Linked DNA regions of Homo sapiens. The protein of the gene in region 2 interacts with the protein of the main gene of each other region in a pairwise test. Each region holds a gene or a part of one and is shown on either strand. Other genes may lie near its edges. The genes, in order: PRKCA, PROS1, PPIA and SETDB1.

Region 1 (7,711 bases), on a different chromosome or scaffold from region 2:
AGGAATGGATACTCCTAAAGTTAAGCAGAGGTGACAAAGACACAGTCGTTTAATCAGAAAATGCAAAGCCACCTTTTATCTTATTTTAGAAAAAAAGGTTCTTATAAAGTGGACTTGACACCTATTTTCTGAAAAGCCGAGTTCTGTCTACTCGCGTAAGTGGTAACTATGAAACAGACGTCAATAGGCACGTTTGCTGCTGCCTCTTATATCTTGGGAGATCGAAGTATTTCTGAGTTGCCCAGTGGGCAAAATCCTTACAGGGCATCTCTGAATCTTCACCCAAGGTGAGAGACCTGGGGACCAGGCGGGTCTGGGCACAGAGCCAAGGAAGCATCCTCCTCCTGCCAAAAGATGGCCACAGAGCCTCACGGAGCAAGGAAAGGGGTCCCAGAAACCCCTGGGAATCCTATTCCAGGGCTGCCTCTGGATGGGGGACACTAAAAATGTCTTTCCTGTGGTTTGGAAGTTTCTAAACCTTAAGCAGTTGTCCCCAGTGTCTATTAAAAACTCGCAGAGCATCAGTCGGCCAAGTTCCACCTGAACTTGCAGTCATTCCCACGTGGACTCCATACCCTAGGAGCATGGGAAAATCTGGCAGTGGGAGATCAGGTCGGGGGTGCTCCAGCTGACCCAGGCTAAGTCCTCCTACAAGCTCCAGGGCATTGGAATCTTAGGAAATCGTCAGTTGCTTTGTTCTAAAAACTCATTTTTAAAGAATTATTATTAAAGTTCTCTATAAAAAAGTACAAATAGCCCAGTATATTCAGTTGCTCTACTGGAATTAACAAATAATTTCTTCCTTTAGGTTAAGAAAAAGTCTTTGGAATTTGGGGGCTTTTGTGTAGGGTCACTGTAAGGCTGTTGGATGGCTGAGTGTGACCTCCACGGTTATTAACTGTCACCTGATCACATAAATGGGAGGCACAGGGGTCAGAATCCTTCATACTGTTGACCTTCCCGAAGAATCCCTGACACTACGGAATTAACACAATTGTGGTTGACCCCATTTCTAGATGATGGCCTTCATCCATGTGTGCGTCAGGTAACCTTCCCAATTTCCTGGATCTTCTAGCAGCAGAAACAGGTAACATTCCCTGGATCTGCTGCATCAGCCCAAATGGGAGGAGACAGGAATGTTGACCGTCCAGTGTATTTCACATGTAGCCCAAGCAGCTTAAGGAAAATGACTTTAAAAAAATATTTTGGCTGGGCGTGGTGGCTCATGCCTGTAATCCCAGCACTTTGGGAGGCCGAGGCAGGCAGATCATGAGGTCAGGGGTTCAAGACCATCCTGGCCAACATGGTGAAACCCCATCTCTACTAAAAACACAAAATTTAGCTGGGTGTGGTGGCACGCACCTGTAGTCCCAGGTACTTGGGAGGCTGAGGCAGGAGAATCGCTTGAACCTGGGAGGTGGAGGTTGCAGTGAGCCGAGATTGTACCACCGCACTCCAGCCTGGGCAACAAGAGTGAAACTCCATCTCAAAATAAATAAATAAATAAATAAAAATTTCGCAACACTCCTTGTCAAATTGGTGTGTGGCCACTAACAACAGAGCACCCTTGTCCTTCCTGGTGACTGTCATGCCTACTGCTGTCCCGGTAACTCTCATGATCACACCCTTTGGGCCCCTGGCTCAGTGTCTGTTTTGTGATTACGATTGTCTGGTGTGCCCAGCAGGGGAAACAGGCACTCCTACCCTTGTCGGGTTATAAAGAAACAGGAAATGGTGTGATGTGCACACACAAGAAATAGGTGACTTTAGAAGACCAACGTGAGAAAATGACTGTCAGATGGTATCACCTTTCCGAGGCTTTTAAAAATACAAGATTGTCACTTTTTCTCTTTTCAGTACTGAGAAAACAAATTCCAGCAAAAAAAAAAAAAACAGGAACAAAAACAAAAAAAACCCTCCGAAATGTCTCCTGCTAAGTGGAACCCAGGTGGGAACTGCGGTGTTAGTTGTTAGTTGTGCGGTGTTAGTTGTTTTTACTTCTCCATTCATCCTCAGCTGCCATAATTCTTGGCAGGAAGCCAGAGAGGAAAATGGGCAGGAACCTACTGGCCTCTGGGGTACACTGGATGGTCTGGCTCTGCCCAGAGAACTATGAGCTACTTCAAGGTGGGGAGGGGAAAGGGGCTTCTAGCAGCTGGTGGGGATGTTGTTAGCATTTGGGGGGTGTTTTCTGAGGAGGAACAGACTGTGTCCCTGGCAAAACACTCTCTTGAGGGCCAGCAGACAGAAACTTCCATCTGCACCAACCACCTCCGATGGGAAGCCGTTGACGGTGGCACCCCTTCCTCTCCCTCCTACTGCAGGCATATTTCTGGATGCACCCAAACCCTGTTCTTCTCTGGCTCCTTCCTGACTACAGCCCCCGCCTCCCTCTCCCTTCTCAGCACGTCCGTTGGGGGGGCTCTCTGGAAGTCTGCATCCTCCTTCCAGGAAGTCACCACACTCGCCTAAGGACTTTGGCTCCGAGAGGTGCTCAACAATCATTTGTTGGGCTGCATGAACCTTGGTCTTTCCGGCCAGGCTTCCAGAGCTCTTGGCCCCATGGTTTTCTATCAAAATTCTGAGTAAGAAAGCCTAATACGTGGCATCAGAAAGGGCAGACAGTGGCCCTGCATGGACCACACGAGGCCAGTGGATGAAAGGAAGGGAAGCACTGCCGGAGCAATAATTTTGACTCCTGTGGTTTCTGATCTGCCTTTTGAATTAGTTCTTGCCTGGATGTGGGCCTCTCATTAACCTTGGAGGGCGGCCCCTGGCAGCACTCCAGTGACTTCCTTTCAAACCCAGCACCTGGTGACCTTCAATTGAAATGCCAAGAGACGGGCTGCCAGCCCACGGCCTGCAGCCTCAGGGAAAGGCCCTGCCACCGAGGAGTGGCCACCTTCCAAGGGAAGATAATGCAGAGCCATTTGAATGGCCTGGTGTGGTCATAGCTCCATGGGTCCTGCGGGGATTCGGACGGTGCTAGATTCTGCCAGGCGGCCTAGACCTCCACAGGCCCTGGCAATCAGGCAGTGCTCAGGGGCAAGGACTTCCCAAAGCATCCCCCAGGGACCTCCTGCGTGGCTGCGGCAGTTCCACAGCGCACCCCTCGCCACCATCTCATTTCACACAATACCCACGAAGGGGCCAGTACCATAGAATTTTATGAACTGATTCTGAGGCGAGCCATTGCTCATGGTTATCTACATGACAGTCTTCCAACAATAACTGTCTTTGGCTGCTGAGATCTGGAAAGCCCTAACCATTACCCACATTCAACACTCAGCAATGGATAAAGCAGGTTCCACATGACAACACTGCACCGGGCCCTGATTTTGACTGTTTCTCTCTGGGGGTTTGTTCTGATGTCTGTTGTCCCTCAGGCAGTGTGCTGGGCACCCCTGTCGGGGCATTTTCTTGGAAAACTTTGCCATATGGTCTGAGAGAGTAACAGCCAGCTGAGACAGTGAATGTGTTTCCTAGAGAAACAAACTTGTGGGTGTTGGGGTTGCAGGGAAGGCCTAAGCCTGCTGCCTGCTTTAAACAGGCAGGCTGTTTGGGGTGCTGAACAAGGGTCCCTAACCTCATGTGTTCCTCCGTGGGATCTTCCTCCTCTCTGGGGGGCCTCGTGGGGGTCTGTCCTGCTGCTGCTCCATTCTGGGCAGGGGGACTGGCCCTTTTGTCTCCTAGGCTCTTTCTATAAACCAGTCCCTTTCCCCTCGGATCAAAGGAGGAGCACCTGGTCAGGACACGAACCCAGATCATGCACTGACCTGCAGGGCTGCAGGGACAGGGGAGCCAGGACCCCCTGGAGTCTCGATGTCTATGGTGCATAAAAGATGGCAGAAGAAATGGTTCTTTTCTGGCCGGGCCCGTTCCCTACCCCGTCTCTCCTTCTACTCAGGGTTGCCAGGACCACCTGGGCCTCTCACCTCAAAAAGCCTTTCATGGTTGTGTGTTCTGTGAACTTCAGGCAAACAGCCAGAGGAGAAAAATAATGCGAGCTTAGCTGGGAGATGCTTCTGGGAGGAAACAGAGCGGCTCTCTACAAGGACTGACAGCTACTTTCATTCTGTTTCTGTTTGTGGTAGAACCCGGCTACTCTGAGGACCTTGCATGGGGGTGTCTCACCAAAGCAGCGCGCTCCTCCCAAGACTGGAAAGGCCAATGCCACAATGGCTGGAAGAAAGTCCGCAGCCTCTGAAAAGCACGTGCTGGTGCCTGCAGGGCACGGCTGTGTTGGTCTCACGAAGTTTGTGCATGCTGGAGCAAACGACAGGTCGTTGCAGAGGCAGCAAGACAGCATGCTTCCTGCGTGTCCAGTACACACAGCAAGAGGGGAGTCTCCCCATCCCTCCCACCCCTGGAGTCAGCAACAGTCACAGGCTGAAGGGAAGAAGGAAACACACACACACGCACACACAAAGGTCAGCCCAGGTGCTGCGGCAATGCCACGTGTGTACCAACGTACTAGGCAGACTGGAATCAGACACTTCCTGTTGTCCCCAAGAGGAAGAGTGGCGGAGGAACCAGGACGAAAGGTGACATGAAGAAACTAAGAGGGAGTGTCAGCTCAAAAATAGTCCTCACCAATAAAAATTTGTTTGCAGGTAGAATCAAATACATATATATACACACACATATGTAGTAAGAGCCTAATCTATCACGTAAACTAGCCATTCATTTTTGAAATTTTATCTACATTTAAAAAGTAATCTATCTGATACAGTGCCCATGTGCAGGGAGGGAAAGCACAGAAGCAAGGGATTCAGCTAAAACTTAATTAGAAAAGAGGATTAGAAACAAGAACCTGCACAAATAGAGCACAATTGTGTCTTATAAAATTATTATAATACTCTCTTTATACTTGATACGATTATATCAATAATATAGATTCACTTGTTATTAAGGTTTATTATAAACATGCAAAATTCATTGCATGATGCATTTGCAAAACGTATTAAAATCCTTCTATTAACAAAACATCTTTGAGCTGTTAGGCATCCGGGTTTCCTGATTCTACAGCTCCAGGCCTGTCATTCAACGTGAACTAGAAATGGGAACCAAAACCATATTCTTTTTATCCCTAAGTGGACATCCAGGGCTAGAGAAGGGAGGAAAATCAATCGGTAGAGGCTGATGCTAGAGTCAGCACTTCCATTAAGTTACTGTACATCGTACTTTCATAAGCGACACTGCAGCCTATTAAATAAATAAGCACAAAAGGGGAGAGGGCGTACACTTCAGCTTCTTGAGAAGGATAACAAGGTAGGCAGCAAAATGTTGGTGTGTGTGGGGGTGGGTGTTGGTGAACAACACTGGTGAGTAGTGGCATGATTACTGATGGCACCCTGGATGGAAAAATAATCTCCCAGAGATTAAAATGAACATATGTACACACTGGCTTATCCTTGATCTGAAATGATTTCACACGCTTGTTCAGCAACGTCCTTAGACGATTTGGCCTCTTACAAAGAATGAAAAGTATCAAGACAGTTATCAACCAAGGAGGGTACCAGATGACAGATTCACCCAACACTCATCTGAGGTTTTTTTGTTTAAACTGGTAACTGCTGGACCATGGTTGGGTTAGGATTTGTCAATGTTTGGGAACAGTGATTAGGTTTATCCCGGCCTTTCAGATTCTAGGGGCTGTTTCCATGGAGGCAGAGAATGGACGCAGTCGGTATTTTGAGGCCTCCCCCACCCCCAATCCCTCCCTGCTCACTCTCTTGGCTTCCTGTTCTTGGATTCCAAAGACGTCTTGGGTGGAGATGTTTCCTGGGACAGGCTCACTTTAACATCTCTGGTTGGGGGATTCCAATGCTGAAAAATCCACAGATGGAGGGTATGGAAAGTATATCAAATTGTACCCAAAATGGGGCAACAGTCTGCTTGCTTTCTAGGAAGGGTTAACCTAGAGCCAGACGTAACTTCTACAGAATTAAACTGGACACTGAGCATGACGTACCATCTTCCACTAAGATAATGTTCTTGGTTGTAAGAGAGAGACCCTGAACAGTTGATCACATTTGGACTAATAACCCTACAATTTTCAGGCCTCCATATGGAATCAGACACAAGGCCGTGGCCTTAAAATTTTAGGGTTAAGGATTCACTTCCCACTGCGGGGAGGGCTGGGGGCTGGGGAGGTGTTTGTTCTCGCTGGTGAGTTTCATACTGCACTCTGTAAGATGGGGTGCACAAACTGGGGGTTGACATACGAGAACCCTTCAAAATCAGACTGGTCTATGTTAGCAATAACCAGCTGATCAGGTGGTGTTAAGACGGGCTGTCCTCGTGTGAAGAACTTGTCAAAGTTCTCTGCTCCTTTGCCACACTGTGGAGAAAAGACAAAAAGAAGGAAAGGTCAGTCAACATGACAATGCGGGAGCAGCTCTCCGAGGGCCCTCTCTGGGGAGGGGCACGGCCCTGGGGAACTCCGGGCTGGTTAGGAGGAGGAATCTCGGAGGACTTGCAGGCCTATTGGATTGAAAAGCCAGGCACAGCAGACAACAACGAGTTACCCAACTGTAAACCCTGAAACACCCCGAACAGAAGCCCTGGGTGGGAATTGCACGGCTGGCAATGAGGCAGCAACAAGGGGACAGCCCCTGTCCCCTCACGTCCACCTCACCGAGCAAGCGGAGCTGAGAGCACGGAAGCCACGCACGCAGGGCCGTCAGTCACAGCTCCGTGTTGAAAGGCCAGGATGTCGGCTGGGGCTGCAGGCAGTTACCCCTGGACCAAGCGACGGGGTGAGTTACTGCCCCACATCTGTTTTTTTGCCGCAATATTTGTAGTGAAGTAAAAACTGTGTTATCCTTGCCTTCCTACTGGGCTGCTCCAGCAACCCCAGCCCCTAAATTAAGCTTCAAGCGATATGAGGTAGGTGTGGCGGCAAGGCTGGGAGATTTGCACCTGGCCCAGCTAGGATTTAGCACACCTAGACAGAGCTGGCCAGCGGGCAGGCTGGGTGACTGACTGGAGCTTATTTGCAGGGTGGTCTCAGGCTGGAGGATGTTTGCATGGCGCCCTGGGGAGGCAGGGAGAGGCCTGCTGTCTCGGCTGTTCCTCTCCTCCAGGGTCCACTCCAGGCAGAACTGTTGCACTGGGGTCGCTGAGACACACAGCCGCTTAGGCAGCACGGCTTGGTAGCCTGACCCCAAAAGTGGGGAAGGAGTGTTCTCTTCACCTTGTCAGCCACCCACAAGGGTAGTGGCGTGTTGAAGTCCCCGGGAGCCCAGGGTGACTCTGAAGCAGGAAGAGCTGGGAGTTTCACTAAGGATCCTAAGAATGATTTTCAAGATGCTGCCAATTACTGCCCTTGGACCTGCTGCTAGCACCACAGGGCCAATATGAATTAACTCTGAGCTAGCACACATTTCAAACTAACCAGGCATCCTTGGGTCTCTAACAGAGAATAGCTCTGGATTAACTGTGAAGTGGGGTCCACCAAGTTTGCTCATCTGTAACACTGGGAGAACAATCACACCTCCTGCCCAAGGCTGTCAGGAAGGTGAAATGTATGGGGTTTTGCACAGAACCCAGCCGAGGCGAGAGGCCAGCACGTGCTGCTAGTGTTTTTATAAGGCAGTTGAGTCTCACGGGCTGTGCTTTCTCAGCTCTTTTTTCACACTTTATCTTCTAGGAGGTGTGCTTGAGAACCTACTTTCGTTTTTTTTTTTGAGATGGAGTCTTGCTCTGT
Region 2 (7,711 bases):
TTTTTATTGTTGTTTACCCTTACTTGAAACCTTTTTTAAAAACCCAAACAACTCTCAAAATTGGAAAACTCCAATTTAATTTTATGTATTTTTTTCTTATTGCCTCAATCACTTTTGAATTTTAAAGAAAAAATAATTTGTGTGCAATTAACAGAATAGTGAACATATTGATTTTTCTTACTTTATATTAAGAACTTATGGGCCGGGCGCGGTGGCTCACGCCTGTAATCCCAGCACTTTGGGAGGCCAAGGCGGGTGGATCATGAGGTCAGGAGATCGAGACCATCCTGGCTAACAAGGTGAAACCCCGTCTCTACTAAAAATACAAAAAATTAGCCGGGCGCAGTGGCGGGCGCCTGTAGTCCCAGCTACTCGGGAGGCTGAGGCAGGAGAATGGCGTGAACCCGGGAAGCGGAGCTTGCAGTGAGCCGAGATTGCGCCACTGCAGTCCGCAGTCTGGCCTGGGCGACAGAGCGAGACTCCGTCTCAAAAAAAAAAAAAAAAAAAGAACTTATTTACACTATTGATTCCATGTGCGTATTATCAGACAATTGCAAAATAAGGCCACTTAAATTTTTCCTAAGATAGAATGGCTCACTTAATTGTTAATTTTCTAGCAGCCTGGAATTGAAAGATATATAACTGGATGTTTAAGCTTAACAGAATAGTATTTTTTTTAACTTTAAAATATGGTATGCTTTTAATTTTTGATCGTGCTGCCACCCTAAATGCCTTTTTATCACATTTATCATAATTTGACATTCCAAATGAGTTGTAACAAATTAATAATTACATTAAAATGATTACTTTACAGAAGTATTTTATTGGAATAATAACATAAGTTTTAGATCCCAGTATTTCAAATGACATGTAGTAATACTTGGTTATTTGGTAATTTTTCTTTTTAATTGTAGGTGTCTGTGGAAGAATTAGAACATAGTATTAGCATTAAAATAGCTAAAGAAGCTGTGATGGATATAAATAAACCTGGACCCCTTTTTAAGCCGGAAAATGGATTGCTGGAAACCAAAGTATACTTTGCAGGATTCCCTCGGAAAGTGGAAAGTGAACTCATTAAACCGGTAATGATCCAAGCTTGTATCATTCATCATGGATGAGTTCCTTTTGTCTGTAATAGATTTGAATATGTGTGTTTCTGAGAATCAATAGAAGTTGTTTTGTTAAGCATACTAAGTGTGACAACTTGAAATGATCATGGAAAAATAACATTAGTAACCCTTGAAATTATATTAATGAAATAAAAAAATGACGTAGTGGTTTTGTGCCCATTTAAATCCCCAGCATAAATCATGAAGTGGATTTCTAAAATTCTCAAGTTAACACTTGAGAATGTTAACACTAATGTTAACATTAGTAATGTAATGTTCAGTGTTAACATCATGATAATCCATACTCAGTTGTTAAACATATAAATTCATATATTTAAGTCCAAAATTACACCATTTTGTAAAAGCCAGTCAAAGGACTTTCTCAAGTCTATTTTTAGGACTTAAATGCAAGAGCTAAAGAATAGCACATAAGGTGAAATTTATTGTTAAATATTTACTATCTTACATCCGTCTTTCATTCTCTGGAAATTCGTAGTTACTTTAACTTTTAAAAGATTTCCATTATATGATATTAAGCTTGAATTAATTAACCCATGTTGACATGAGTATACCTGTTGTTTGAAACTGAGAAATTAATACACTTTAAAAGTAAAATAAATTATTCAAAAAGTATCAATCATTTATGAAACGGTTATTACATGTCTTGAGCCTGGCAGGATACTTGATGGAGGCTAAAGAATGCAAACACTTTTGTGTCTGAAGAGACTTAGAGTCTGATTGGCAAGACAAACCCATATTATAAATGCCACTAAAGAAAAACAAGGCCAGGCGTGGTGGTTCACACCTGTAATCCCAGCAATTTGGGAGGCCGAGGCGGGTGGATCACCTGAGGTCAGGAGTTCAAGACCAGCCTGGCCAATGTAGCAAAACCCCATCTCTACTAAAAGTACAAAAATTAGCCAGGCGTGGTGGTGGGCACCTGTAATCCCAGCTACTCAGGAGGCTGAGGCAGGAGAATCGCTTGAACCAGGGAGGCAGAGGTTGCAGTGAGCCAAGATCCTGCCACTGCACTCCAGCAAGACTCCATCTCAATCAAACAAACAAAGAAGATAAACAAGACAACTTAGAGCCCAGGGCCACAGCTAGAAGCAAATATAGAACTTGAAAGCAGAAAAGTTACCACTGGATGATGTAGGAGAGGCAGGTGGGGCTTGAAGTGTTAAAAACCATTAAGATCCCACTGAGGGCTTGTGATAGTATGAGCTTGCTTGTACTGAAAAAGACTGTCCATCTGAAGAATACTTTGAAAAGAAAAACTTAAATAAAATTCAAAATATTTTCAACTATTATCAAAGAAAGGATTTTTTTTCTCTTAATGAAAACCTATACTCATAATCGAGCCACTGTTTAAGTTTAAAATGCACTCCTTGACTTGTATTTTAATTTGTTAGATTAACCCTCGTCTAGATGGATGTATACGAAGCTGGAATTTGATGAAGCAAGGAGCTTCTGGAATAAAGGAAATTATTCAAGAAAAACAAAATAAGCATTGCCTGGTTACTGTGGAGAAGGGCTCCTACTATCCTGGTTCTGGAATTGCTCAATTTCACATAGATTATAGTAAGTGATTTTCCATTTATCTCTATTTTCTCATTAATGAGTAAATTTATTCATTAACAAACAGTAATAATTTATTTGTGAAACATTATTGAGTATCTACTGTGTGCCCACTCTAGTCTTATGCTTATTCATACTATTATATACCTTTTACAAAAATTTTTCAGTGTATTGGGAAAAATATAAAGGCATTTGAATGTGCTTGTGTTGTTATTTCAGGTTTATCAGTACATAGCCTGATTCCTTATGGGTAAATTCAATTGACCTATTTTAAAGTTCACTGATTTCTCACTTGTATGGAGTCTATCAATGAATGCATCAGAAAGATTCATCTTCATTTCTAGCATTTCTATTTGATGCTTTCTTAAAATTTCTACCTCCCTGTTGAAATTCCCTATCTGTTCACACTTGTCTAGTTTATGTACTGAGTTTTCAATGTATTCATCATAATTATTTTAAATTCCCTGTCTCGTAGTTCCAACTGTGTCATATCTGAGTCTCGTCATTTTGTTTGCTTTGTCCCTTGACCAAGTGTTGTTTTTCTTGCATCTTTGTGTACCATGTAATTTTTGGTTTAGATTTGGGCATCTTACGTATAACAGTAGAGACTGAGATAAAGAATATTTGTGTCTGGAAATGAGCACATTTCTTTTGCTAGGCTCTTAGTAATGGGATTGAATCAATCTAGTGAAAAGTTGAGCTTCTTAAGTTTTGTTGGTGCCAGGATTACCCTTAATGCACCACAGGTTTCAGATCTTTTATTTTGTTTTGTTTTGTTTTTGAGATGGAGTCTCACTTTGTCACCCAGGCTGGGGTGCAGTGATGCAATCTTGGCTCACTGCAACCTCTGCCACCTGGATTCAAGTGATTCTTCTGCCTCAGCCTCCTGAGTAGCTAGAACTACAGGCGCCCGCCACCACGCCCGGCTAATTTTTGTATTTTTGTGTTTTTGGCCAGGCTGGTTTTGAACTGCTGATCTCATGATCCACCCCCTTGGCCTCCCAAAGTGCTGGGATTACAGGTGTGAGCCACCGCACCCAGCCTCAGATTTTCAAAATACTACCTTCTGCTTAGAATAAGGGAATGGTTTGGTAGCTAGTTTTTCTTTTTCTTTTCTTTCTTTTTTTCTTTTTTTTTGAGACTGAGTCTCACTCTGTCACCCAGGCTGGAGCTCAGTGCCACAATCTCGGCTCACCGCAACCTCCACCTTGCAGGTTCAAGTGATTCTCATGCCTCAGCCTCCTGAGTAGCTGGAATTACAAGGGTGCGCCACCATGCCCTGCTAATTTTTGTATTTTTGACGAGGTTTTGCCATGTTGGCCAGGCTGGTTTCAAACTCCTGACTTCAGGTGATCTGCTTGCCTTAGCCTCTCTAAGTGCTGGGATTACAGGCTTGAGCCACCGTGCCTGGCCTAGAGAGTTTTTCATCATAGCAGCTCAGTTTTATGTATTCCCTCCATAATACGCCTCAAGAAAATGTCTCTCCCACTTGTGTCTCTCAAGTGTCTTGCCCACCCCTAGCAGAGTGCTCTTGTTACCTGACATTTGCTAACATGGCAGAGAAGATGCGGAGGTTGGGGAAGCATTCTATGTTGTTGTCGTACAAATTCAGTCTTAGGCAGGTGTTGTATCCCTGGGTCTCAGGAGTGTGGAATTTTCACTGTTCCTCTTCCCTGACTCTCATCAGTAGGGGAGATGTCTAGTGATCAGGACTCAATATGTTTTCTTGCTCCTTCTGCATGATAGATAGCTTTTTTTGTTTGTTCTTCCTAATCTGTAGTTGCAATGAGTCTTCATATGTGTCCTAATGACAAGGTTTGCTGCCTTTCTCCTGGCTTGAAAACTTGTGTTGTGTAGAGGAGACCGAGAAGGATCTAGATGGGGCTTTGTGGCTTCCCTGTAGCTGGTGCTGCTTTCAGGACCATATTAAGAGAGAGGCTTTTTCGGATCTCCTTCCCTGCACTCTGTTTTCTCTTGAGTGCATGGTAAGGTCTGTGGAGAAGAGCCTGTGAATGAGCATGAATTGTCTTTGTGTCTGTAATTTCTAGGGCTTCTAAACTCTTACGTCAGCCCCTACATGGAGTTCAGCAATTTGTTTAAATCTTTACCTAAATTATTTTTACCAAATTGCATGGCATTTCCTGTCTGCCCTGGATTAGAAAGTGTTCTCATTCTGGCTTTCCTTGGAAACACCTGTCTTTCTTTAGGTTTCTGGTTAGTTTGTTGCTCTGCGACCTCAGCTCTTTGATAGTTTCAAGAAAAGTCATGATTATGCAGATAATTTGGCTTTTGTTGTTGTAAGGGTGGGAGTGGTGCCCTTTCCACTTTTCTACAGCCTAAGTGGAGCAGGGAATCTTGCCATACTGACCCTAGGTTTTTAACCTTAGAAGTAATACTTCTGTGAACATCCTAAATCATACATCCTTCTACCTTTATGTGATTAATTCTATGGAAGAAAATTTTAGAATTAGGTTATCTCTATCAAAGGTTATGCAAATATATAATTATTAGAGGTTCAATTACATTCTTTTCCAAAAATCTTTTATCAATTAATATTTCTACCAACAGAATGAGAAAGTGTATGCTTTAGTTTTTTTCCAATCTGATAGTTCAAAAATTAAATTTTGTAGGTTTGAATATTAATATTATTTCTCTAATTTCTACTGAACTTGAATATCCTCCCATATGTTTATTAGCTATTTATAAATTCTAATTATTTTATTGAATTCTTTGTCTTTTTCTTTTTTAGTAGTTCATTATTTGAGCTACTAACACTTTGCATTATAAATTGTTAACACTAATGTGATATCTCTGCTTTAAGAAAAAAATTACATTTTAATTGTGTTTATTTGTAACCTAAAAAGGGCGAGGTAAGGTGGCTCACACTTATAATCCCAGCACTTTAGGAGGCTGAGGCGGGCAGATCCCAAAGAGCTAGAGCCCAAGAGTTCAAGACCAGCCTTGGCAACATGGTGAAACCCTATCTTCACAAAAAATACAAAAATTAGCCAAGCCTGATGGCATGCACCTGTAGTCCCAGCTACTCAGGAGGCTGAGGTGTGAGGATGGCTTGAGCCCAATATGTTGACACAGCAGAGAGCCAGGATCTTATCACTGCACTCCAGCCTGGATGACAGAGTGTGAGCATGTCTCACAAAAAAAAAAAAAAAAAAAGTGCTTACTACATTAAAATACATTTTTAAATTTTTATGTAATTAGGAGGTACAAGTGCAGATTTCTTACATGCATATATTGTGATATATTGTGTAGTGGTGAAATCTGGGCTTTTGGTGTACACATCACCCAAATAGTGAACATGATACCCAATTGGTAATTTTTCAACCCCTACCCTCCTCCCACCCTCCCATCTTTCGTAGTCTATATTTACTACATTTGTTTGTTTGTTTTTGAGACAGGGTCTCTCTCTGTCATCCAGGCTGGAGTGCAGTGGTGCAATCATGGCTCACTGTAACCTAGACCTTCTGGGCTCAAGCAATCCTCCTGCCTCAGCCTCCCAAGTAGCTAGGACTACAGCCACATGCCACCATGCCTTGCTAATTTTTATGTTTTGCAGAGACAGGGTCTTCCCGTGTTGCCCAGGTCAGTTTTCAAATTCCTTAACTCAAGTGATACTCCTGCCTCAGCCTCCCAGTGCTGGTGTTACAGGCATGAGCCACTGTGCCCAGCCTTTTTTACTGTATTTTTAAGGACAAATTTTACAAAAATGATTTCCCTTTTTCTAACACAAATTGATACAATGCCTAGTTCTGTTCTGCCTATGAAAGATTTTTTTAAAGTTATAAATGGGGTGAGGATTAAATTAGGATAAAACTAAATCCATGGTGATTTGGCCAAAGGAAAAAAATCCTGAAAAGGTAATGAAAATAAGAGTTATATTGTATCTAAAAAAATTACTTTAATAAGTAATTAATCATTTCATGGATAATTTGTAAGTGATCTACTTTGTAATTAATATTTAATGTTACATTTTAACTTCTATACATTCGTGTGTTCATTTTAGTTTGAGTTTAATATTCTGTGTTAAATTTACTTATTTCAAGATAAATGTTTAGGTGATAGAAATTCCAATTACCCTGATTTGAGCATTACACATTGTATGCATTTATCAAATGACATATGTACCCCAAAATATGTGCAATTATGATATATCAATTAAAAATTACTTATTTCACAATGATTACATATAAACATTCTTTTTTTTTTGGAGACAGAGTCTCACTCTTTTTCCCAGGCTGGAGTGCAGTGGCGTGATCTCAGCTCACTGCAACCTCTGCCTCCTGAGTTCAAGCGATTCTCCTGAATCAAGCCTCCCGAGTTGTAGCTGGGACTACAGGTATACACCACCATGCTCGGCTAATTTTTTGTATTTTTTTTTCAGTAGAGATGTTTCACCATGTTGCCCAGGCTGGTCTCGAACTCCTGAGCTCAGGCAATTCCAAAGTGCTAGGATTACAGGCATGTGCCACCGTACCCGGTCTATATATTTTTTTTCTTCTGGATGGGAGTTACAGGATTATAATGAAAAACAGTGACATTATATGTGGCTAAGTGGAAGAACATCTTGTCAAAGGAAAATGATTTTCCTTATTCACATTTACCCTTTCAAGGGCTCCGTGTGGTATTTGGGCTTTGCTGTATGTTACATCATATTAAATGAGGAAGACTTCATTCAGATTATGAACTAATATTTTTAGTAATCCAACTATTCTGGAAACATATTAATTCAACAAATATCTATTGAGTGAGTGCTGGGGAAAACAAAGCAATGATAGAGATATATACCTCCTAGAGCTTGCATGTTAGTGGGATAGACAATTAACCTAGTAATTAAGAAAGAGAATGTGAAGGATTATGACAAGAGATTCACAAAACAAGGGTTCCTATTCTGATTTCAAAACTAACTGCTGATGTCAGTGTATTTCTCTAGTATCGAACTATCCAACTCTCCTATGTATATAGATCATATTTATCCTTTGGAGTGATGATGGCAACTGTACCCAGAT
Region 3 (8,492 bases), on a different chromosome or scaffold from region 2:
TGGGAACCATTTGTGTTGGGTCCAGCATTTGCCATGGACAAGATGCCAGGACCCGTATGCTTTAGGATGAAGTTCTCATCTTCAAATTTCTCCCCATAGATGGACTTGCCACCAGTGCCATTATGGCGTGTGAAGTCACCACCCTGTCAACATATAGGAAAAATGTCACTTCTGACAACATAACCATGAAGTGTGCCAAATCTGCAAGGTTCAAACTTTAAACCCAAGTTCAAACTGAATAGAAGGGTTAAATAGAACCGAAATGGTAGAGTAACAGTTCAGATATGTGTATCCTGAAATATTCTGGCTCAATCCCAAATGAAGGGAGCAACCCAAATAAAATAAAATTCAGTAAATTTCGTACCTGACACATAAACCCTGGAATAATTCTGTGAAAGCAGGAACCCTTATAACCAAATCCTTTCTCTCCAGTGCTCAGAGCACGAAAATTTTCTGTTTAAAAAAAAATTAAACACATATATACATACATAAAAATATATATATACACACACACACACAAACTGTCACAATTGGAACATCTTTGTTAAACTTAGAAAATGGACCAACCTGCTGTCTTTGGGACCTTGTCTGCAAACAGCTGTAAGAGAAAATTACAGTTAATTAACATCTGCTTATTTTGTTGCTTAGTACCCATGTCTTTAGGGGCTTCTGAGTCATAAATTCATTTTCTCACTAGAATACTTCTTCAGTAATTACTTTAATTCCCAAGAACTGCTCCTGACAGCCATAAGGCCCTGCAGGCAGTTGGGTTAAGAAACATGAAACCCAAAGACATGCCAAAAATCCAATACTAGTCATAACTTAAATAGTGAGACTTCTAGAAAGTGTCTCAAACTTTTAGTACATCACACCTACTTCTGAAAAGATATATGGCTTCTTAAATGTCTATCACCACCCCCCAACTTGAGCTAGAACTTACAAGGCAAAATTCTAAGGAACAGCAAGCACTGCTGCACGATCAGGGGTAAACAGCTGTTCTTTTAGTCACTTGTAATGAAAATGCTACTACCTCCAATCTGTTAACATAGCTTTATGGATTAGATGAGCAGTCACTTCTTGGTATCCAGGCCCCTTACCTAGTAGTGGGGTAAAAAATAAAGATTGGTTTCTAGTATATCTGGTTTTGAACCTTTCTTGAATGTATAATACGTTATGGCTAGAGAGGTAGCTTAAATACCATAAACATTTACAAGCCCTTTCATAAAAACAGCTTGTTTAAAAGTAGCATTTTATAAGCTATTTCACAGATGTGACTGAATTAACTACTAGTATCCGTGTGCACTTCTCTTATAGCAATGTACTTTTTTTTTTTTGAGACAAGAGTCTCACTGTCACCAGGCTGGAGTGCAGTGGCACGATCTCGGCTCACTGCAGCCTCCGCCTCCGGGGTTCAAGCGATTCTCCTGCCTCAGCCTCTAGAGTAGCTGAGATTACAGGCAAGCGCCACCACGCCCAGCTAATTTTTGTATTTTTAATAGAGGTGGGGTTTCACCATGTTGGCCAGGACGGTCTCAATCTCCTGACTTCGTGATCCGCCCGCCTGGCCAACGTACTTATTTTTTAGTTTTTAGGTATTTGTACCTAGAATGTATGGTCTTTCTAAAACATCAGCTTTTCTCAGAGCTTTATAGTCGGTACGTTTAAGTTCCTATGGCTTCCCTTTCAGACTTTCGCTAAAGCCAAAGCCCTCATTGGCAGTTACCCCTCCATTCTCATCAAGACCTGCAAGTCCTTTCTCATTTCCCTGAAGCTCTTTGGGTAACCTGATGCCCAACATTAGGTCAGGCCAAGTTTCCACGAAAGCCCTTGTCACTTACCAGCTTTGACTACACTCATAGGTGGGGTGGGGTGTGGATTAACATGCAGTGTTTCAGTGCCTATGTGCCAGGCACTATGGACAGGGTAGGCAACAAGGAAATCGCTCTGTCCTCACGAAGACTGCATGAGGATCAATCTATTTTCGGAATAAGATCCCAAACTAGCCATTGGTGGCCTTTTGAGATGTGATTTAAAGGAATAAAACCACTAACATCCTATTTCGCTACTCCCTAAGGTCTATCCATGTTAACTGGAACGGAATCGTACTCAATATTTAACTTTGAAGACACGCGCCAAGTTTAGATACTATGCTATAATTACAACTGATCTTTAAGAACTCATTTAACGCTCTCAAAACTAATTAGGTAATCACTGGTAATCCACCTTGGTCGGAAGAGGCCTGCCTTGTGGCCAGTCGCAACTTGCTTGCTAGGCAGAGGGACAATCGGGAGGGGCTCAAGAGCGCCTCCCCCGCCAGCGCCGTCACTGCAGTGGAAGGCGGTCCTTGGGCACCAGCAAAGGCAAGGCCCATTTTCACATTTCCGCTTGGGGGTGGGGGACACGGAGGGACGTTTGGGGCACATGTATAAATATTCCTACTTTATCCAAATGGAAGATATTTCAAGTGGCAACCCGTCACATCCCAGCAAGTCTCCTTTTATAACATGGCCTCCCGGGATCTACAGGACCGAGCATGGACGGGCTCACACCGCGCCTCGATCCTTGAGAAAAACCCTCAAGCAAACAGCTTCCCAGCTCAGGATGTAAAGCACCCATGCCTGCCAGGGGACAGCTTCCCAGGAAGGCGGTCGCAAGCCCCCGCGAGCGTGCTTCTGGCTCCGGTCTGCGGCGCCCAGGCCAAGCTAGGGCGGAGCCCAACGACTCTCAAGGCGCGGACCTGAGCGCGGCCGCCGAGCACGTGCGTCGGACAGGACAGGGCGCGGCCACATGAGGCGGGCGGGCGGACGCGGGCCCCCTCCCCCAACGGCCTCGCAGCCGCCCCGCCTGCCTTTGTCCGCCGCCGTCCCGGCCTCCTCCCCGCGACTCGCGGACCTCCCAAAATGGCCCCTCGTCAGGAAATGGCGCCGCAGCCCGCCCGCGCTCGCCCCTCAAGCAGGGTCGCCCCGCGCCCGGGCCTTTGGGGCGCTACCACCCACCCCGACCCCGGCCCACTTTCTGGGCCCCATTCCCGCACGCCGCCGCCCGCCCGACCTCAAAGGAGACGCGGCCCAAGGGCTCGCCGTCGACGGCAATGTCGAAGAACACGGTGGGGTTGACCATGGCTAATAGTACACGGTTTTCCTCGGCGGTGGCGTCTGCAAAACGGCACGAGCCTGGCCTCCCGCCCCTTTTATACCACGTTCGGCCCCGCCCGCAACCCGGTCTCGCGCCTCCGTCCCGGCCAATCGGGTCTGCGACTTCGCCAGAGTGACAGTGCATCTGGCCTATAGACGGAAGCCGGCGCTGATGGGGACGACACATGAGGCGCGCGTGCGCGCTAACGCGCGGAGGCAGGTTCCCGCCTGCGGGCTCCGTCGCGGTGGCTGCGGCATGGGACTCGGGGCGGGGCGGCAGTACGGGACGCGGGGCACGGGGGAGGGTCAGTGCGGAACGGGGGTGGGCAGCATGGCGCGCGCACGCGGGAGACGGAAGCGCGGCGGCTCTTCGGCCGTTGTCAAGCGATGAGGCGCGTCTCCCCATTGCACAGAGGGGGCAACTGAGGCGAACGCAGGCCTCAAGGTCGCGCCGCCAGTCAAGGTCGACTGGGGTCCCGCGCCCGGACCCTACGCCTCCGCGAGCGGAAATGGGGATGGCGCGTCCCCGAGACCTAGGAGCAGCCTTGCGTCCGCATTCCGCGCGGGCAAACACCACGTCGCGTCCTACCAGGCAATGTCAGGAAGGAGGTTGCCTTTGAGCATCGCTGTTTTCTCTAACGAGGTGGGACAGGAGCAGTCTCCGGTTTTGAGAGATTATGAAATGCTTTCAAAATGCTCTACTTTCCGAAAATATCTTACACTCTGCTTGAATCTTCTTCAGGAGGAAGCCATTAAAACAGGAGCCTGGCCAGGCTCTTACCTGTGAAGATGCATTATGCACATTTTGCCCTCTTACTCTTTTTGAATCTCTGCTCCTGGTCTTTCCCTGCCCCCGCCCCGCCCAGCTCCTACCGCCCCCGCCTCGGGGCTGAATTGTGCTTTGATTTTTGGGTGAAAGATAAGTCACAATTTAAAAGCGAATTTCTTCAGGCAAAGACATTAATAATACTTTAATTAAAATGCACTTGTAGGCCAGGCGCGGTGGCTCATACCTGGCGCTTTAGGAGGCGCGGAGGCCAAGGCCGGGGAGGATCGCTTCATCTTAGGAGTTCGACACCGGCCACCAGCCTGGGCATCTTAGAGAGACGCCGTCTCTACAAAAAAATAAATAAAAATAAAAATTAGCTGGGCGTCGAGGCGCTCGCTACTCAGGAGGCTGGGCGGGGAGGATTGCTTGAGCCCGGAGGTCGAGGCTGTAGTGGGCGGTGATCGCATCACTGCATTCCAGCCGGGACGACAGAGTGTGACCCTCTCTCAAAAAATAGGCCGGGTGCGGTGGATCACGCCTGTAATTCCAGCACTTTGGGAGGCCGAGGCGGGAGGATCACCTGAGGTCAGGAGTTCAAGACCAGCCTGGACAACATGGTGAAACCCCATCTCTACGAAAAATACAAAATTAGCTGGGCATGGTGGTGCGCACCTGTAGTCCCAGCTACCCCCTCGGGAGGCTGAGGCAGGAGAATCGCTGGAACCCAGGAGGTGGAGGTTGCAGCGAGCAGAGATGGCGCCACTGCACTCCAGCCTGAGAGACAGAGACTCCGTCTCAAATAAATAAACAAAAATATAAAATAAAATGCACTTATGTGACTGGTGTTTTGTTAAGAAAACCTTACAAGGGAATTCATATATCCTGGGCTGTCACTTAAGTTGCAATATTAAGGATATTATTTAATGTTTCTTTTTGTTTTTTTGAGACAAGGTCTCACTCTCACCTAGGCTGGAAGTGCAGTGGTGTGTTATCGGCTCACTGCAACCTCCCCTTCCCGTGCTCGAGCAAGCGTCCCACCTTAGCCTCCCAAGTAGCTGGGACTACAGGCATGCACCCACACCCAGCTCATTTTGTGTGTGTGTGTTTTGTAAAGATGGGGTTTCGCCACATCGCCCAGGCTGGTCTCAAACTCCTGGACTCAAGCGATCCACCCGCCTCAGCCTCCCAAAAGTGCTGGGATTATAGGCGTGAGCTGCTGCACCTGGACGTTGTTTAATGTTTCTAAAACTCAGTTTCTTCATCTGCACAACCAGGATAGGGTTGTGGTGAGACAAAAATGATAATTCATCTGATAGATGAAGTACAGTTTCTGGCCTCTTGCCATTGTTAATAACCATGAGCCAACGTGTTAGGAATTTATTTATTTGAGATAGGGTCTCACTCTGTTGGTTAGTCTGGAGTGCAGTGGTGCAATCCTAGCTCACTGTAACCTCGAACTCTTGGACTGAAGCATTCCTCCCTCCTCAACCTCCCAAATGTCTGGGACTAAAGGCACAAGCCACTGTGCCAGCTAATTTAAATTTTTTTAACAGAAACTGGTTCTGGCTGTGTTATCAGGGCTGGTCTCAAACTCCAGGGCTTAAAGGATTCTCCCACCTTGGCCTCCCAAAGTTCTAGCATTACAGGTGAACCGCCATGCTCAGCCTGTGTTGGAAATTTAGACTATGTTGTTTTGTTCTCATCACCATCCCATTATCCCCATTTTACAGATGCGTAAAGTAAAGCTCTGGCTTCTTGTTCAGAGTAATCGCTTATGAGTGTTAGCAAAGCCAAACTGGAAACTGCTTTTTTCCCCCCCACTCCACATCACTTCTTGCTTTGTGATCTTAAGAAAGCCACTTGTCCTCATCTGACACTGAAAAAAAATGCCCAAGGCCTTCAGGCATAAATTCTTACCATTTCTCTCTCCATCCTAAAACGTAGAGCAGTTAGGAACTCCTCCAAAGAAGTAAATGAATGAGGCCGGGTGAGGTGGCTCATGCCTGTAATCCTAGCACTTTGGGAGGCAGAGGCGGGTGGATAATTTGAGGTCAGGAGTTCAAGACCAGCTTGGACAACATAGTGAAACCCTATCTCTACTAAAAATACAAAAATTAACTGGGCAGGGCTGGGCATGGTGGCTCACACTGTAATTGCAGCACTTCGGGAGGCCGAGGTAAGTGGGTCACTTGAGGCCAGGAGTTCAAGACTAGCCTGGCCAACACAGGGAAAACCCATCTCTACTAAAAAGTACAAAAATTAGGGCTGGGCACAGTGGCTCACGCCTGTAATCCCAGCACTTTGGGAGACTGAGGTGAGTGGATCATGAGGTCAGGAGTTCAAGACCAGCCTGACAAATATGGTGAAACCCCGTCTCTACTAAAAATACAAAAGTTAGCCGGGCATGGTGGTGCGCATCTGTAATCCCAGCTACTCAGGAAGCTGAGGCAGGAGAATCACTTAAGCTTGGGAGACGGAGGTTGCAGTGAGCTGAGATCACACCACTGCACTCCAGTCTGGGGGATGGGGTGAGATTCCATCTCAAAAAAAAAAAAGTAAATGAATGCATGAATGAATAATAAATAGGCTGGGCGTGGTGGCTCACGCCTGTAATGCCAGTGCTTTGGGAGGCCAAGGCAGGAGGATCGGTTGAGCCCAGGAGTTCAACACCAGCCTGGGCAACAGAGGGAAACCCTGCTTCTACAAAAAAATATGTATTTTCTTTTATTTTTTATTTTTATTTGTTTGAGACAGAGTTTCGCTCTTGACGGAGTGCAATGGCTTGATCTCGGCTCACTGCAACCTCCGCCTCCTGGGTTCAAGCAATTCTCCTGCCTCAGCCTTACAAGTAGCTGGGATTACAGGCATGCGCCATCACTCCCGGCTAATTTTGTATTTTTAGTAGAGATGGGGTTTCTCGTGTTGGTCAGGCTGGTCTTAAGCTCCCAACCTCAGGTGATCCACCCACTTCGGCCTCCCAAAGTGCTGGGATTACAGGTGTGAGCCACCATGCCCGGCCTATTTTATTTTTATTTATTTATTTATTTATTTATTTATTTATTTTTTGAGACAGAGTGAGTTTTACTCTTGAAGCCCAGGCTGGAGGTCAATGAATGGCGTGATCTTGGCTCACTGCAACCTCCACGTCCTGGCTTCAAGCAATTCTCCTGCCTCAGCCTCCCAAGTAGCTGGGATTACAGGCATGCACCACCATGCCCAGCTAATTTTATATTTTTAGTAGAGATGGGATTCATCATGTTGGTCAGGCTGGTCTCGAACTCCTGACCTCAGGTGATCCGCCTGCCTCAGCCTCCCAAAGTGCTGGGATTACAGGCATGAACCACTGTGCCCGGTCAAAACATTTTTAAAAATAAAAATTAGCCAAGCACGGTGGTGCATACCTATAGTCCCAGCTACTCGGGAGGCTGAGATGGGAGGATCACTTGAGCCCAGGAGGTTGAGGCTGCAGTGAGCCATGATGGTGCCACTACACTCCAGCCTGGGTAACAGAGCAAGACCCTGTCTCAAAAATAAAAATAAAAATAAAAATAAATACATCCGGCTGGGTACAGTGGCTCATACCTGTAATCCCAGAACTTTGGGAGGCCGAGGCAGGTGGATCACTTGAGGTCAGGAGTTCAAGACCAGCCTGGCCAACATGGCGAAACCCCGTCTCTACTAAAAATACAAATATTAGCCTGGTATGGTGGTGGGCTCCTGTAGTCCCAGCTGCTCAGGAGGCTAAGGCAGGGGAATCGCTTGAACCTGGGAGGTGGAGGTTGTAGTGAGCCAAGATCGAGCCACTGCACTCCAGCGTGGGTGACAGACTGAGACTTCGTCTCAAAACAAATAAATGAATACATCCTTGTGACTTGTCCTCCCTCTCGCTACTATTTGAAGTCCTGCCTTTTTGTCACCGTCAGCATTGTCACAGCAAAGTCCTAGTTCTTGTCATTTCATCTACACAGGCATGGGGTATGTACACTCAAGAATACAAATGTTCATGTTTTGTTTGTTAAGTGGGGAGCTGATATTCTGGGGGTTCCTTTTCTGACATTATCTGTTGAGTGGGACTGTCTAACTGTGGAAAATATCAGCAGACACAGAACCTCAGGAATGTGGAGCTGTCCATGCCTTATTTGGATGAATCAGACCAAAAGCAAATCCAGCTGAACTCAACAGTGCCCTGTTCTGGCTAGATGGAGGTGTTCCATGCCAGCAAGCAGAACTCTGAAACTCAACTGTAGCTCCTGATCATATAGCATCTTATAAACAAATGCTTATCTCAAAAATGTGCCTGAGCAAGAGAGAAGGTAACCAGGGAAAAAATTAGGGTATTCAAAATTATGAAAACAGACGACTTTGGGTAGTAACTTGTCTTCTCTGTGCCTCTTGCCCAAGGCCTAGCTTGGTGCCTCTGCTCTCCAGGCTGAATGGAAACCGCTTCTGCTGAGACCATCAGTGACCTCTCAGCCCACAAACCCAGGTGCTTTTTGCAGGTCTGACACTGCCTGCATCAGACAGGTTTCATCACCTCCTTGATTGGAAAGCTTCCTTTCCTTGATGGCTTTGACTTTTCTCTCATGTTT
Region 4 (7,711 bases), on a different chromosome or scaffold from region 2:
GGCTCACAGCAACCTCCGCCTCCCGGGTTCAAGCAATTCTTGTGCCGCTGCCTCCCCAGTAGCTGGGATTACAGGCACCCACCACCATACCCAGCTAATTTTTGTATTTTTAGTAGAGATGGGATTTCGCCATACTGGCCAGGCTGGTCTCGAACTCCTGACCTCAGGCGATCCACCCGCCTCGGCCTCCCAAAGTGCTGAGATTACAGGTGTGAGCCACTGTGAGCAACCTACAAATTTTTTTTTTTTTAAATCAGGCAGGCGTGGTGGCACTTGCCTGTAGTCTCAGCTACTTGGGAGGCTGAAGTCGAAGTGAGCTATGATAGCACTACTGTGCTCCAGCCTGGGTTACAGAGTGAGATACTGTCTAAAAAAATATATATCAAATAAAGTTGAGGTTTCTATATCCTAAGAACTAGTGACTCTCTTACAGTATATACACTAAAAAGACTCCTGCACATGTGCATCAGGAGACATGTACAAGAATATTTGCAGTAGTGTTATCTGTAATCTCAAAAAATGTAAATCAATGTCCACAATCAGGAAAACTGATAAACTGTGGCATATTCATACAATGGAATACCATGCTGCAAAAAGCAAATAAGCTAATCATCATGCATCAACACAATGTTGAAGAAGTCAAAGCCAAGGGAGACGTCAGAACTAAATGTAACTCTGAATGCATTCGCCTCACTAGCTAAACTATTCCAAAAAATAGAAATAAAAAAGTCAATACTTGGAAGCCAAGCTAAAAAATTAAAAGTTAAAATAAAAAAACTGAACAGAGGCCTACAGGGTGGCTCACGCCTGTAATCCCAGCACTTTGGGAGGCCGAGACGGGCAGATTACGAGGTCAGGAGATCGAGACCATCCTGGCTAACATGGTGAAACCCTGTCTCTACTAAAAAAATAGAAAAAAATTAGCCAGGCATGGTGGCGGGCACCTGTAGTCCCAGCTACTCGGGAGGCTGAGGCAGGAGAATGGTGTGAAACCGGGAAGTGGAGCTTGCAGTGAGCCGAGATTGCGCCATTGCACTCCAGCCTGGGCGACAGAGCGAGACTCCGTCTCAAAAAAAAGAAAAGAATAACTAGGATATGGAACTCTCAGGAAAATAAATTAAAACTCAGAGTTGCTAGATTATCTAAAAGTCAATATTCAACAAAAAGATAAGAGACATGCAAAGAAACATGAAAGTGTGACCTACACTCAAGACAAAAAACCCTGTCAATAAAACTGACTCTCAGTGATCCCAGATACTGGATTTATAAATATGCTCAAAGAACGATAGGAAATTAAGTTAAAAGGTTAAATGAAAATATACTAATACTTAATCAACAAGAGAATCTCAAGAGAAACTGAAACTATGAAATAAGGAACCAAATAGAAATTCCAGAGTTGAAAATGCAAAAACTGAAATGAAATACATATTAGAGGGGCTAAGTGGCAGAGTCACAACAGGAGTCAATGAACTAGAATATATAGATACCCATATAGAGAAATTATCCAATCCAAAGCACAGAGAGAAAATTGAAGAAAAATGAACAAAGCTTCAGAGACTTGTGAAAAGATGAATGTCAAGCATTCCACCATATATGTAATGGAAATCCCAGAAAGCAGGGAGAGACAAAAGGGAACAGAAAAAAAAAACCATGAAGAAATAACAGATGAAATACTTCCAAATTTGGTGAAAAACTTGAATCTACATACCCAAGAAGTTAAATGGACCTCAAGTAGGATTAAGAAAGAACTTGGATACATCCCAGTCAAACTAACACCAGAAGACAAAAAGAAAACCTTAAAACCAGCAAGACAAAACTGACTCATATACATGATACAAAAATAATTTCCTCTGACTTTCCATCAAAAATAATAGAGGCCAGAGGGCACAGGGATGGCGTATTTGAAGTACTGAAAGAAAACTCTGTCAATCAAGAATTCTATATCCCAGGTAGGGCCGGGCACAGTGGCTCACGCCTGTAATCCCAGTACTTTGGGAGGCCAAGGCGTGTGGATCACCTGAGGCCAGGAGTTTGAGACCAGCCTGAACTACATGACGAAACCCTGTCTCTACTAAAAAGACAAAATTAGCCGGGCGTGGTGGTGCACACCTGTAGTCCCAACTACTTGGGAGGCTGAGGCAGGAGAATTGCTTGAACCTGGAAGGTGGAGGATGCAGTGAGCTGAGATCTCACCACTGCACTCCAGCCTGGGCAACAAGAATAAAGCTCTGTCACAAAAAAAAAAAAAAATTCTATATCCTGGGTAAACGAAGATTGAGGGAATCCACTGTCAGCAGAACTGTACTGCAAGAAATATTAAAGGAAACCGTCTGGCTGGAAAAACATGACACTGGATGATAACTCAGATCCACAGGAAGGAATGAAGAGCAACAGAAGTGATAAATATCTGGGTAAATACATATTTTTCTTTTCTTCCCTTACCTTCTTTAAACATGAGACTGCTTAAAGCAGTAATTATAACACTAGATTATTGGCTTTAAACATGTAGCTATAATATATTTGACAATAGTATCACACAGGAAGAGAGTGAAAGTAGAAGTATGCTGGTGCAAAGTGGCTGTGTATATATATATATTTTTTGAGATGGAGTCTCGCTCTGTCGCCCAGGCTGGAGTGCAGCGGTGCGATCTTGGCTCACTGCAAGCTCCGCCTCCCAGGTTCACGCCATTCTCCTGCCTCAGCCTCCCAAGTAGCTGGGACTACAGGTGCCCGCCACTACGCCCAGCTAATTTTTTTGTATTTTTAGTAGAGACGGGGTTTCACCGTGTTAGCCGGGATGGTTTCGATCTCCTGACCTCGTGATCTGCCCGTCTCGGCCTCCCAAAGTGCTGGGATTACAGGCGTCAGCCACCGCGCCCAGCCAAAATGGCTGTATTTTTACCAGAATTAAGTCAGTATTAATTTGTAATAGATTATGATTAGGTACAGATGCAACCCCTTTTATGAAAGCTAAAAAAAAGAAAAATCAGGGGCCGGGTGTGGTGGCTCACTCCTGTAATCCTAGCACTTTGGGAAGCCGAAGCAGGTGGATCACCTGAGGTTGGGAGCTTGAGATCAATCTGACCAACATGGAGAAACCCTGTCTCTACTAAAAATACAAAATTAGCCAGGCATGGTGGTGCATGCCTGTAATCCCAGCTACTTAGGAGGCTGAGGCAGGAGAATCGCTTGAACCCAAGAGGCGGAGGTTGCAGTGAGCAGAGATCCTGCCATTGCACTCCAGCCTAGACAACAAGAGCGAAAACTCCATCTCAAAAAAAAAAAAAAAAAAAAGAAAAAGAAAAAGAAAAAGAAAAAGAAAAAGAAAAATCAGAAGAATGACAGTGGTTTTCTGAAATGTTTGTTTGACTTTAAGAAGGCAACAAAGAAGAAATAGGGCTAGGCACAGTGGCTCACGCCTGTAATTCTAGCACTTTGAGAGGCTTAGGTGGACAGATCACCTAAGGTCAGAAGTTTAAGACAAGACTGGCCAACACAGAGAAATCCTGTCTCTACTAAAAGTACAAAAATTAGCTGGGTGTGATGGCGCGTGCCTGTGGTCCCAGCTACTCAGGAAGCTGAGACAGGAGAATTGCTTGAACCCAGGAGGCAAAGGTTGCAGTGAGCAGAAGTTGCAGTGAGATCATGCCACTGCACTTCAGCCAGGGCAATGGAGCAAGACTGTCTCAAAAAAAAAAAAAAAAAGACAAAATAGGCCAGGCATGGTAGCTAAGGCCTATAATCCCAGCACCTTGGGAGGCCAAGGCAGGAGGATTGCCTGAGCTCAGGAGTTCGAGACCAGCCTGGGCAACATAGTGAGACCTTATCTCTACTACAAAAAAAAAAGTTAGCTGGGCGTGGCGGCATGTACTTTTAGTTCCAGCTACTCAGGAGGCTGACGTGGGAGGATCACTTGAGCCCAGGAGGTTGAGGCTGCAGTGAACTATGATCATGCTATCACACTCCAGCCTGGGGAACAGAGTGAGACCTTGTCAATCAATCAATTCATTCATTCATTCATTCATTCAAAAAGACTAAAATTATACAAAGTATATTCTCTGAACACAATAAAATTAATTAAAAATTAACAACAGAAAGATATCAAAAAAACCCCAAATATTTAGAAATCAAACAACCACAAGGAAAATTAAAAATGATGCCAAGTTTAATGAAGCTGAAAACACAACATAAAAAAAGTATGATATCCTGAGAGTGACACTGTATGGAAAAAAATTTATGAGATGCAGCAAAGCAATGCTTACGGGGAAATAAATAGCTTTAGAGCTTATATTAGAAAGGAAGAAAGGTCTAAAATCAATCCTGTAAGCTTCCACTTTGAGAGGCTAGAAAAAGAAGAACAAATCAAACCCAGTAAGTAAAAGGAAGAAAATAAACATCACACTGGAAATATATTTAATGTGATATCCTGGATTAGATCATGGAACAGAAAAAGTCCAGAAGCTGAATAAAGCCTGAAGTTTATATAAAAGTAATATACCAGTGTTTGCTTCTTAGTTTTGACATATGTACTAGATGAGGGATATATAGGAACTCTATTACTTTTTCAATTTTTCTATAAATCTAAAATTATTCCAAAATAAAAGATTTTAAAAATCCACAAAGAAAAGTCCAAGCCTAAATGGCCTCAGCACTGAATTTATCAAACTTTTTAGGAAGAAATATCATTCCATACAAACTCAGAGGAGGGAACACTTCTCAACTCATTTACAAGGCCTATATTACCCTGCTACCAAAGCCAAACAAGGACACCACAACAGAACTATAAACCAATAGCCCTCATGAAACAGATGTAAAAATTTTTTTCTTTCTTTTTTTTTAAAAAAAAAAAAATTAGAGAAGGGGTTTCACCATGTTGCCCAGGCTAGTCTTGAACTCCTGGGCTCAAGCAATCTGCCCAACTCGGCCTCCCAAGGTGCTGGGATTTCAGGCATGAGTCACAGCATCCAGCCAAGATCTTTTTTTTTTAAATCAGCAAATCCAATCCAGCAACATATAAAAAGAATTATACATCAAGACCAAGGCTGGTTTACTCCAGGAATGCAAGGTTGGTTTAACATCTAAAAAAACAACTACTGTAATACATTCTTAATATGATAAAAGACAAAAGGAACATAGGAGAATGATACAGAAAAAGCTGACAAAATCCAAAATCCAATTAGGCTATGATAAAATCTCTCAAACTAGGATTAGAAGGGGATTCCTTTAATTTAATAAATGACATCTATAGAAAACCTACTGCTAACATAATTAATGGTTAAACACCAAATGCTTTCATATCAACATCAGGAAGAAGAAAAGGATGTCTGTTTTTTTTTTTTTTTTTTTTGGGTGAGACAGAGTCTCACTCTGTCGCCCAGGCTGGAGTGCAGTAGTGTGGTTTCTTTTTTTTTTTTTTTGGTTTATCTTTATTTTTTTTATTTTTTATTTTTTAATTTTTTTTTATTATACTTTAAGTTTTAGGGTACATGTGCACATTGTGCAGGTTAGTTACATATGTATACATGTAGTAGTGTGGTTTCTGTTCACTGCAAGCTCCACCTCCTGGGTTCACGCCATTCTCCTGCCTCAGCCTCCCAAGTAGCTGGGACTACAGGCGTCCGCCGCCACGCCCAGCTAATTTTTTGTATTTTTAGTAGAGATGGGGTTTCACCGTGTTAGCCAGGATGGTCTGGATCTCCTGACCTCATGATCCGCCCTCCTTGGCCTCCCAAAGTGCTGGGATTACAGGCGTGAGCCACCACGCCTGGCCAGGATGTCTGTTCTGGAAACCCTTTTTTTTTTTTTTTTTTTTGAAGACAAGAGTCTTGCTTTGTCACCCAGGCTGGAGTGCAGTGGCACAATCACAGCTCACTGCAGCCTCAACTTCCTATGCTTAAGAGATCCTTCCACCTCAGCCTCCCAAGTAGCTGGGATTACTGGGGTGCACCACCATGCCTGGCTAATTTTTTTATTTTTAGTAGAGATGAGGTCTTGCTACGTTGGCCAGGCTGGTCTCAAATTCCTGGGATCAGGGGATCCTCCCACCTCAACCTCCCAAAGTGCTGGGATTACAGGTATGAGCCACTGTATCTGGCCTGCTCTTAAAACTTATTCAACACTGTACTGAAGGTTTTAGTGAGTACAATAAGAAAAGAAAAAGAAAGATATCCAGGGTAGAAAGGAAGAAGTAAAACAGACTTTACTTGCATGAATTAGTTTTAGAAAAACCTAAGGAATTGGCTGGGTGCAGCAGCTCATGCCTGTAATCCCAGCACTTTGGGAGGCCAAGGCAAGTGGATCACAAGGTCAGGAGTTCAAGACCAGCCTGGCCAAGATGATGAAACCCTGTCTCTACTAAAAATACAAAAATTAGCTGGGTGTGGTGGTGGGGCAGGGGGTTTGCCTGTAATCCCAGCTAGTTGGGAGGTCGAAGCAGAGAATTGCTTGAACCCAGGAGGCAGAGGTTGCAGTGAGCTGAGATTGCGCCACTGCACTCCAGCCTGGGCAACAGAGCGAGACTCCATCTCAAAAAAAAAAAAAAAAAAAAAAAAAAAGAAAATCCTAAGGAATCAACAAAAAGCTTCTAGAACTATGTGAGTTTAATGCGGTTGCGGGCTACAAGATCAATACACAAAAACCAACTGTATTTTTTATATTCTAATAACAGAACATACACTCACTATAAGTCCTGGCAATTCCACTCTTTGATGGAATACCCCAAAATAGGGGTTACACAGAATGAGGAAAGCAAAGTAATACAATCAGGGTGTAGCACATAGGGAACATCTATGATACTAACAATGTTGCATTTTTTTCTTTAATAGCCAACTCAGGCAGTTAGAAATATGGAGTTAGTGACAATGGTTTCTCCTCTCTTCTATTATCTTCTATTTGCTCATCTTCCAGTGTTTCAACTTCAGTCCTGAGACTCTCCTATCCAAAGCTCATCCCTTACCTGAATCAATACTGAGGACATCATCATCTTCATCAGGAATCTCAATTATTTCTGTAGGCCGGGAAGATTCGTCCTCAGAGCTACTGTCCCGGTATTGTAGTCCCAGCTTGGAGTAGAAGTCCTTCACCAAAGACTCACAATTAGTCACTGCCCTAATATTGGAACACATGCAGAAAAGGTCAAAGCCAGTAGAGGAATTAAGAGATATAGAATCCATTACGATGTATATATATTTAAGTATAGACAGTCCTCAATTTAAATGGGCCACATTCCAAAGTGTCTCTGTTTAGAATTTAGAATGCTTTTTCTATAGAAAAATGTTTTAAATAGTGGTTTAGTTTCCAGACTAGTTCCTCAAAAATCCAAAGTAAGCCCAAAGTACAGTACTTTCACCCTTACCTCATTATTTACCTTGCTGTTATCTGAAAATGTATCCTGGCTGGCAGTGGTGGCTCACACCTGCAATCCCAGCAATTTGGGAGGCTGAGGCAGGTAGATCACTTGAGGTCAGGAATTTGACCTCCCCAGCCTGGCCGACATGGTAAAACTCCATCTCTACTAAAAATACAAAAATTAGCCGGGTGTGGTGGCACACGCTTGTCGTCCCAGCTACTCCGGAGGCTGAGACAGGAGAGCTGCTTGAACTCGGGAGGCGGAGGCTGCAGTGAGCCGAGATCACGTCACTGTACTCCAGCCTGGGTGAGACAGAGCAAGTCTCTGTCTAAAAAAAAAATAAAATAAAATAAAAATAAAATA

Evidence for each region.
Region 1: the proteins of PROS1 (region 2) and PRKCA interact in binary tests that used the Homo sapiens proteins (3 or more experiments, as listed by UniProt).
Region 3: the proteins of PROS1 (region 2) and PPIA interact in binary tests that used the Homo sapiens proteins (3 or more experiments, as listed by UniProt).
Region 4: the proteins of PROS1 (region 2) and SETDB1 interact in binary tests that used the Homo sapiens proteins (3 or more experiments, as listed by UniProt).

Annotation. Positions count from the first base shown.
Region 1 is NC_000017.11:66,802,505-66,810,215, reverse strand, and holds part of PRKCA (protein kinase C alpha type), read right to left. Parts: intron 6,344-7,711; coding exon 6,179-6,343; 3' UTR 1-6,178. UniProt on the Homo sapiens protein: Calcium-activated, phospholipid- and diacylglycerol (DAG)-dependent serine/threonine-protein kinase that is involved in positive and negative regulation of cell proliferation, apoptosis, differentiation, migration and adhesion, tumorigenesis, cardiac hypertrophy, angiogenesis, platelet function and inflammation, by directly phosphorylating targets such as RAF1, BCL2, CSPG4, TNNT2/CTNT, or activating signaling cascade involving MAPK1/3 (ERK1/2) and RAP1GAP.
Region 2 is NC_000003.12:93,879,707-93,887,417, reverse strand, and holds part of PROS1 (vitamin K-dependent protein S isoform 2 preproprotein), read left to right. Parts: intron 1-914; coding exon 915-1,082; intron 1,083-2,521; coding exon 2,522-2,690; intron 2,691-7,711. UniProt on the Homo sapiens protein: Anticoagulant plasma protein; it is a cofactor to activated protein C in the degradation of coagulation factors Va and VIIIa. It helps to prevent coagulation and stimulating fibrinolysis.
Region 3 is NC_000007.14:44,791,353-44,799,844, reverse strand, and holds the start of PPIA (peptidyl-prolyl cis-trans isomerase A), read right to left. Parts: upstream 3,165-8,492; 5' UTR 3,121-3,164; coding exon 3,052-3,120; intron 2,727-3,051; exon of another isoform or gene 2,224-2,726; intron 1,098-2,223; exon of another isoform or gene 941-1,097; intron 599-940; coding exon 568-598; intron 454-567; coding exon 365-453; intron 144-364; coding exon 1-143. UniProt on the Homo sapiens protein: Catalyzes the cis-trans isomerization of proline imidic peptide bonds in oligopeptides.
Region 4 is NC_000001.11:150,929,363-150,937,073, reverse strand, and holds part of SETDB1 (histone-lysine N-methyltransferase SETDB1), read right to left. Parts: intron 7,108-7,711; coding exon 6,956-7,107; intron 1-6,955. UniProt on the Homo sapiens protein: Histone methyltransferase that specifically trimethylates 'Lys-9' of histone H3. H3 'Lys-9' trimethylation represents a specific tag for epigenetic transcriptional repression by recruiting HP1 (CBX1, CBX3 and/or CBX5) proteins to methylated histones.